2 linked regions of the Homo sapiens genome follow. Changing the gene in region 1 together with any one later gene gives a genetic interaction. Each region holds a gene or a part of one and is shown on either strand. Other genes may lie near its edges.

Region 1 (5,327 bases):
TCCTACCTCAGCCTCCTGAGTAGCTGGGACTACAGGTGTGTGCCACCACACCTGGCTAATTTTTGTATTCTTAGTTGGCCAGGCTGGTCTCTAACCCTTGACCTTGTGATCCACCCGCCTCAGCCTCCCAAAGTGCTGGGATTACAGGCGTGAGCCACTGTGCCCGGCCCTATTTTTTCACTTTTTAATAATAAATAATAGCCATTCTGACTGGTGTGAGATGGTGTATCATTGGGGTTTTGATTTTCATTTATCTGATGGTCAGTGATATTGAGCTTTTTTTCATATGCTGTTGGCCGCATGTATGTTTTCTTTTGAAGTGTCTATTAGTGTCCTTTGCCCACTTTTTAATGAGGCTTTTTGTTGTTGTTGTTCCTTATAGAAGCTAGGTATTAGACCTTTGTTAGATACATAGTTTGCAAATATTTTCTCCTATTCTGTAGGTTGTTTGCTTACTCTGTTGATAGAAATTAATGTGTATCCAGCAAAAGAAACTAAGAGTAAAATTATATGAGTCATAATTTACTATGAGAGGGATCATATCTAACAGGTTTTTTAAAAATTATTTTATTTATATCATATACACACACACACACACACACACACACACACACACATTTTAAAGACAGGGTTGGCTGGGCACGGTGGCTCATGCCTGTAATGCCAGCACTTTGGGAGGCCAAGGCAGTGGATCACTTGAGGCAAGGAGTTCAAGACTATCCTGGCCAACATGGTGAGACCCCATCTCTACTAAAAATACAAAAATTAGCTGGGTTTGGTGCTGAGCACCTGTAATCCCAGCTACTTGGGAGGCTGAGGCAGGAGAATTGCTTGAACATGGGAGATGGAGGTTGCATTGAGCCAAGATTGTGCCACTGCATTCCAGCCTGGACGACAAGAGCAAGACTCTGTCTCAAAAAATAAATAAAGACAGGGTCTCTCTCTGTCACCCAGGCTGGAGTGCAGTGGTGCAGTTGTAGTTCACTGCAGTCTCAAACACCTGGGCTCCCCCTGCCTCAGCCTCCTCAGTAGGGAGGACTACAGGTGCATGCCACCATGCCTGGCTAATTTTTTATTTTTATAGAGACAGTGTCTCGCTATGTTGCCCAGGCTGGTCTTGAACTCCTGGCCTCAAGCGATCCTCCTGTCTCGGCCTCTTAAAGTGCTGAGATTACAGGTATGAGCCACTGCATCCAGCTCTGACAGTTTTTGCACCTAAAGATAAAGATTTTGTCTGTGTGCACATGTAATATACGAGGAAAAATTAGGATGATTAGTCATTTTTCCTAGATATTAGACAAGATTTTTCTAGAGGTCGTGTTAGTTCACAACATTTTATTAAACTGTTTTATACTATGTACAGTCATTAAAAGTTGCATAAAATGTGATGTACATGCACATGTGTATATGTAGGTAATGAAATCTTGCTTCTAATCTAGCTTATTTTTAAGGAGAAAGTGGTGTTCTGAAATTGGTTTTGTTATGCAGAACTGTGGTGCAGGGGTTCCTGCACCTGCAGTTATTTATCTCTCATTTCATAACTGTTGTAACTTAAATGTGTGTAATTAACTTCTAATGCAAATGATTAGAATTAGGTTTCTTGATACTCAGAATCCTTGTTAGGTACATTTATACTCTTGAAATGATTTACCCATCTAGAAACATGGTCCAATTTCATTCAGAAAAGTATTTAAAATATGTTATAAAAGTATAGATTACAAAGATAAATCTCAACCTTGTTTGTTACTTTTTTCTTTTACTCACAGTGTGTTATCCAGGATTTTCAAGCTTCGGTACTTCAAGTGTCAGATTCAACTTATGATGAACAGTATGTTTTCTTATTAAAATGTATACTTTATAAATGAGGAAAGGATTTGTTTAAAAAATACTTAATTGAATAATGTTTAAAATATTCTCACTCCCTTTTTTTTTTTTACAAGTTTATAATTCCCTAGTAGTTTATAATTTTGAAGAGAATTATTTTTTGTCTTTTGTGTAATACGGTTTAATATGTTTTCAGAGTGGCTGCACAGATGCCAACTGTTCATTATGAATTCCCCAATGGCTACAATTGTGATTTTGGTGCAGAGCGGCTAAAGATTCCAGAAGGATTATTTGACCCTTCCAATGTAAAGGTATAAAAGCTTATTTCATAATTAGCCTGGCTTTTCCTATATAGGTAAAGAGCTTTTGTGGCTAAAATGTTTTGGATATGCTTTACTGTATGAAGAGCTTCCATGTGACTACTTGTTTTCTTTTGTTGTAGGGGTTATCAGGAAACACAATGTTAGGAGTCAGTCATGTTGTCACCACAAGTGTTGGGATGTGTGATATTGACATCAGACCAGTAAGTGCCAGTCTCCTGTTACGGTTTAAAGGTATCTTTTAGGGGACTGAAATGTCCCCAAATCATTGTTAGGTTGACAGTGATCTAATGGTTGTCAGTGTCATTGACTTTGAGGTTCATTTTATAACAGTATATGTAAAAAGATGAAGTACTAGAAAAGGAAAAATGTGAAACTCTAGAGCTATGGTGTCCAGTTTTGTAGCTACCCGCCACATGTGGCAATTTAAATTTAAAATAGATAAAAACATAAAACTCAATTCTTCAGTTGTAGTAGCCTCATTATAAATGTGGCTAGTGGCTGCATCAGACAGCGCAGATATAGAACATTTGCATCATCACAGAAAGTTATTGTAGACTGCGCTAGAGATTTCCTGAAATGTGGCAAACCAAAATATGTATTGTTGGTGATTTTCTTACAGATAGCACAACTTCTACTTTTATTTTTCAGGAAGGCGTGGTTTAAATTATATGAGTAACTTTTACATGAAGTTTATTTTAAATGCTCTTCATATTTTTTGTGCTTTGTCAGGTTTTAAATACTAACTCCATATTATATACTTCACTCATTATCAGTGATAGGTTCTTGGAGACTGCAACTTTAACTGAAACGATGTACAGTAGGTCCTTGAAGGACATTGTTTCAGGAAAAAAATTGGTTTTGTTACATGACATTTTGCTGAAAGTCAGTTTCCAAGGTCATATTGATGACATTAAATGAGGACTTACTTTATCTTATTTAAACCCAATTCAGCTTATCACCCACATACTGCCTAGATTTTGAGTAAATTAATTTGCTTAAAGCATAGTGCTAATAACTACTATGTTATTCAAAAAAGGCTTTGAGTGGCTATGAAAATCATACTTTATTTTACCTTTATTTCACCTGGTAACCTAGTAGGCATGTGATGTTTCTAGGACAATAGTAGTATAAGTTTGGGATTTTTTTAGCGCAAATACAATTCCACCTTTCGGGGAAGGTAATTGAATTGAAGTATATTTATTGCAACAGTGATAACTGTTTTTAGTGAAGTTTCTCCTTTTAACTAATGAGATACTTTTGCATTCCATTTTCTACTTCAAAATTTAGATGATTTAGACATTTGAAGTATGTTTTAAAAATAGGAACTTACCCACTAAAACAGTTTGACATTTAACTTTCTGATGCATACATGCAAATTCAAAGTAAATACACTGCTTATAAGTAGTAATTTATTTTTATTTGGGAAGGGCTTAGCATATGTGTTTTGGAAAAGCTCCCATGTGCTTCTGATGCTTACCTCTGCAAAAGAGAAAAGTAGCAATAATTTTGGCGAGGAATATGTTCAGAGTTTATCATTGTCTGTCATAATCATAAAATAATTGTCTAATTTTGAATATCCTAACTTACAGATAAGCATTCTTTTTCAAAATATTTGTAATTTTAATTTTTGGCTGGTGGTTGCAATTAATATTTCCAGATGAGCATTCTTTGAATATCCTAACTTACAGATAAGCATTCTTTTTCAAAATATTTGTAATTTTAATTTTTGGCTGGTGGTTGCTATTAATATTTCCAGATGAGCATTCTAAGATAAAGTCATTATAAAATGTACTTCTAATTAAATATTGGCAGCTATCTGCCAAAAAAAAATTATGATTTTTAGAATGATTCCTTTAAGTTAGTGGTTCTTAAAACTTTGTACACATTAAAATAATCTTGGGAGTTAAAAACCATGCCTGCCAGGTACAGTGGCATGTAGTCCCAGCTACTTGGGAGCCTGAGGCAGGATTGTTTGAACCCAGGAGTTTGAGGCTGTGGTACGCTATGCCTGTGCCCGTGAATAGCCACTGCATTCCAATGTAGGCAATATAACGAGACCCCGTCTCTAAAAGTAACCTTGCCTGGATCCCATCCCCAGACATTTTTATTTAATTGCCCCTAGGAATTTGTGTTTTAAAAGCTCCTTAGATGAGTTGAATGTACAGCCAGGATGGAGAATTGATGGATTAAGCTATTAGTTCTATATAATAGTAAAACATTTCCAAAAAACGAAAGGGAAATTGTAGTAGAGCACATGGTTATATTTGTAGTTGTATTTAAAACTTTTGGAAACATATGGAACTAATTGATTTTTCTTGTATTTTTATCCTAGGGTCTCTATGGCAGTGTAATAGTGGCAGGAGGAAACACACTAATACAGAGTTTTACTGACAGGTTGAATAGAGAGCTGTCTCAGAAAACTCCTCCAGTAAGTTCTGTTTGTTCTTTAATGGTATTCTTCAGTCATATATTTCCTCACTGATGGTGTAATTTTGTAGATAAGCGTCCATTTTTCAATAGATACATGATATTTTGTGTGTGCCTGGTATAGTATCACTAAAGTTAATATCCTTTAATCGTTTTCCTAGTTGACATCTATTAGTTTCTCTTAAATTATTTGAATCTCATTTATTAATATTTAAATATGTATAGTCTGCTAGGCACTAGTCCCTGCACACCAAGGGCTCAGTCTACTAGGATGGTTAGACATGCAGAAAATGATGACTGTAACATGCTCAACAATTCAGTATGTCATGAACGAGGTGCTGTTGGGAACACCAAGAAGCCACTACTTAACTCTCTAGGAGTATCAGAGGATAGCCTCCTGAAGAAGCTATAGTTTGAATGAATAGTTCAACTCATTGCTAATTTATGAAAGGATATCTAGATGGAGGGAATAAAACCATTTACAAAAATACTAAGAGAAGACAGGTATGTTCCAGTAATTCAAAGTAGTTGGCTTCTAGTCTTTACGTAAGTGGGGAAAGCAATATGGCTAGAAAGATGGATTAGTTTCCTAGAGCTGCCGTAACAAAGTACATGTTAGTGGCTTCAAACAACAGAAATTTGTTGTCTTATAGTTCTTGAGGCTAGAAGCCTCAAGGTGTCAGTGGAGCTATGCTGAATCTCTAGGGGAAAATACCTCCTTCTTCACAGGATAAAATCTAGCAGTGGACTGAT
Region 2 (4,064 bases), on another chromosome or scaffold:
ATAAAAACCTTTCTCTCCTTTGTTCAGTGTGCTCTTGTGATTGTGACTGGTGCAGGCAGCAGCACCCTTCTGCGGACGTAAATTTGCCTTGCTGAGAAGTCTTTTGTTTGAGTGCTCATTTTCTTTGTGACTCTGAGCTCTTATTTCCAACACTGGGATTACAGACATGTGCCACCATGCCCAGCTAATTTTTGTATTTTTAGTAGAGATGGGTTTTCTCCATATTGGCCAGGCTGGTTTCGAACTCCTGACCTCAGGTGATCCGCCTGCCTTGGCCTCCCAAAGTGCTAGGATTACAGGTGTGAGCCACTGTGCCTGGCCATAATTCATTTTAAAAAGTTTATTCATTACTTATAGAGATGGGAGCTTGCTATGTTGCACAGGCTGGCCCTGAACTCCTGGCCTCAAGCAATCCTCCCACCTCAACCTCCACAGTATCCAGAGTACAGGCGTGCACCATAGCACCAGGCAACTGAGTGCAATTCAGCCCCTCCATATATACTGCCAAATGTTGGTCTCAAATATATACTGCCTCCATATATACTGCCCAGCTGGTCTCAAACTCCTGTCCTCAAGTGATTCACTTGCCTTGGTTTCCCAAAGTGTTGGGATTACAAGCATGAGCTACCATGCCTGGACTCAAATAGATAATCTTGTTCTTACCAAAGCAGTAACTGAGGAGTGTGCAGGACTCCTCCACCCACAGGTGATGCTTCTGACAGATCACAAAGGAATTTAGAATTCTAGTTTAACAATATCACTCTTTACTCAAGTGGAAGGGAGTATATATTTTTTCCACCTCTGTAAGTAAAGTTCATTTTAGCAGTTGGTAGAACTGGTGTCCTACCAACTAGGCTAGGTTTTCTACCTAGCCATGCCTATTTATGTCTTTGCAATCAAGAAAGATTCTCCATCCCTGGTAACAAAGCATCGTCTTCCTAAAGTTCACTTCACTGTATGAAGAACTGTGAGGATCTAAATTCTACAGTATTTCCCTTTGTGAGTTTATTAAACTCTAATGCTAGGCACATACACGTCTTTGAAAACTGCCTCAAACTTTCTCCTTCCTGGGACTTCCTGTAAATGAATTTCATTCTCACTGTCCCAACAGCTCCAATCCTAGGAATTAATTGAAAAATAAACTACAAACGTGAGCAGAAAAGCCTTCACAATGAATCCTAGAGAAAACAGTTCAATTATCTGAAAGGAGTGTTCCTTCCTACACCCATGCCAGACTCTGATTTTCCCATGCTAGCAACTGTGACATTACAGAAACATCTGTTCCTGACACTGTTCAACTGTTTAAATAACCAAGGAGGAGAAAAAAAAGATTTATAATTAAATAGTATTTAGGGTCCCAATAGTCAGAGTCCAATAATCCAAAGGTCATCTATGCAAAATTAGGAATATGCATTTTTCTCCAAAGAGTATCTTTGGCTTTAATCTGATTCTCAAAAGGATCCTATGATCCAAGAAAGTTTAAGAACCATTGAAACAGTAATTTATTCCTGAGCTATTTGACTGCCATCAATCCATTTGTTATAAAACTGAAGGGAAAACACACATTTGAATCACTTCTTCTAAAGCTTTAGTAAGTGATCTGTTCAAATAAGCAATTACATGAAAGAATAAAACCAAATTTCCAACCTAAAATTCTGACAGGAGAGTCAACATGATGGTTAAGGCCTATTTCATATTCAAACTTCAGTCTATGAAAGAGTAGAGAGAGAAGGGTCTCCTCTTTCAAATTAAATATTATAAAAACAATTAAAAAAAGGTATCAATAGTCCTAAAATGCAGCAACTCCATCTCAAACAAGCATGACACACTTCTGATCAGATGAAGTATTTACAAAGGTAGCTTGTGTTTTAAGCATGTAACACTTTGGGTGACGACAGAAGTTTCTCCTCTTTGGGTGAAACCTGCCTAAGGCTGTAGAGATGACCAACACTCTGCAGGTGTTAGTTCTGAATAACTACTGTGGGCTTTTCATGATCTTCCCTCCAGTAGGAGACCACAATTGAGTCTAAAGTCAGATCCACCGTTGTCTATGGGTAGGCAGGGTTGATTCAAACTTAATCCTTGTTTGTATTCTTTTGGATTACTGCAAAAACATCTAGGGACCAGAGTGAATGTCTGGTGAGGCATAACTGCAGAGGTGAAAGATGTCAAACATTTTCAATTTGGCAGTTTCTTCAAGGTGTGTGAAAATTCACATACAGAAGGTCTGGCAGTGTCTTCTGTAAGTTTTCGTGTTGCCGTATTTCTGAAGGAGCTCTTGGGCCTGCTGCTGCATTTCCTGGGCCAGACAGCCAGGAAAGTGGGACCTGATGAGAAGCAGGACGAGGCAGCACTCCAGCACATCTGGGAAGGGCCAGGCCTGAAAGACGATGACATGAGGATGAATAAGGAAGCATTTGCAGAAGAGCCACAAACACCTGCACAGAAGGCACCAGTCACTCAGGTTCATCTATAGACACTTCTTGGACACAGCTGAGCCAGCTGTCTCCTAAGGCAATGTCCTGTCTTTCTCTTCAACAGTTACTCCAAGGAGAAATGACACTCAAAACTAGGATGGCTACTGCGATGTCCTTCTCAATGGCACAATCTCTTTCTACAGCCCTATGCAAATCCACCCTTAAAAATGGTGCTTCTATTAATATTTGGGCCCACAGCCAAAAAGACCTGTCCATCTGTAAGCTATCTAATACATGGCACCAATTTAAATTTTACTTCTTACCTATTAAATCTATTTGGTTTCTCTGAAGATTGAGGTATAAAATTACTTGTGTGATCGATAATTCTAGTCTCACAAAACATTCTAGCTAACCAAAGTAATTGGATTCTAAATTCTTTTTTTTTGTTTTGTTTTTTTTTTGAGACAGAGTCTCGCTCTGTTGCCCAGGCTGGAGTGCAGTGGCGTGATCTTGGCTCACTGCAAGCTCCGCCTCCTGAGTTCACGCCATTCTCCTGCCTCCATGCTATTCTCCTGCCTCAGCCTCCCGAGTAACTGGGACTACAGGCACCTGCCCCCACGCCCGGCTAATATTTTGTATTTTTAGTAGAGACGGGGTTTCACCATGTTAGCCAGGATGGTCTTGATCTCCTGACCTCATGATCCGCCAGCCTCAGCCTCCCAAAGCGCTGGGATTACAGGCGTGAGCCACCACGCCCAGCCTGGATTCTAAATTCTTAAGCACATATGAATGGGTAGAGATTTTAGAAACTGAACAGAGAGGTAGCTGACCTTTATAAGAATGTGGTATAGTCAAGTGATAACACAAAAAGTGATGCTTTACCAAATGAACTGCTTTAACTCTTACCTTAATGCTCTCAGGAAATTTCGCCATTCTCTGATTTGCCTCGGTAAGCCTTTTGGTTAACTCAGGCAGAGAAAGTGGCTCATTTTTTTCTTCTTTACTAGTGAAAAAAATAAAAGGTGTAAATTGTATGTCTTGCCCTGGGTAACATTTTTCTCCCATTGTTATTTTACTGTGGTAAAATGTATATAACATAAAGCTTACCATCTTAGCCATTTAAAAATACATAGTTCAGTGATTTTAAATAAATTCATAATGTGGTGAAAAACATCCCCACCACCCATTTCCAAAAACTCTTGTCATTTTGTAAAACTGAAATCTTATACCCATTAAACATTAACTTCTCATTCTGCTTCCCTTAGCCCCTGTCAACATTATTCTACTTTCTGTCTCTATAAATTTAACTATTTTGAGTAGTTCATATAAGTGGAGTCATATAGTATATGTCTTTTTGTGACTGGCTTATTTCACTCAGCATGATGTCCTCCCTTCGTAAGGCTGAATGACATTCCATTGTATGGATATGGCACATTTTGCTTATCCATTCATCTGTCAGTGGATACTTAGGTTGCTCCCGTGTTTTGGGTATTATGAATAATGCTGCCATGAACACAGGTGTGCACATATTTCAGACCCTGCTTTCAATTCTTTTGGGTGTATACCCAGATGTGGAAGTGCTGGATCCTATGGTCATTCTATTTTACATTTCTGGAGGAAGTGCTGCTGTACTGTTTTCCACAGTGG

The links. Genes that interact genetically often act in the same process or in processes that back each other up.
Region 2: changes in ACTL6A (region 1) and GEMIN5 together harm fitness less than expected from each alone (positive genetic interaction), as found in Homo sapiens cells (one large-scale study listed by BioGRID).

The regions. Positions count from the first base shown.
Region 1 is NC_000003.12:179,578,874-179,584,200, forward strand, and holds part of ACTL6A (actin-like protein 6A), read left to right. Parts: intron 1-1,766; coding exon 1,767-1,828; intron 1,829-2,020; coding exon 2,021-2,135; intron 2,136-2,266; coding exon 2,267-2,347; intron 2,348-4,479; coding exon 4,480-4,575; intron 4,576-5,327.
Region 2 is NC_000005.10:154,885,998-154,890,061, forward strand, and holds the end of GEMIN5 (gem-associated protein 5), read right to left. Parts: intron 3,421-4,064; coding exon 3,324-3,420; intron 2,381-3,323; coding exon 2,213-2,380; 3' UTR 1,414-2,212; downstream 1-1,413. UniProt on the Homo sapiens protein: The SMN complex catalyzes the assembly of small nuclear ribonucleoproteins (snRNPs), the building blocks of the spliceosome, and thereby plays an important role in the splicing of cellular pre-mRNAs.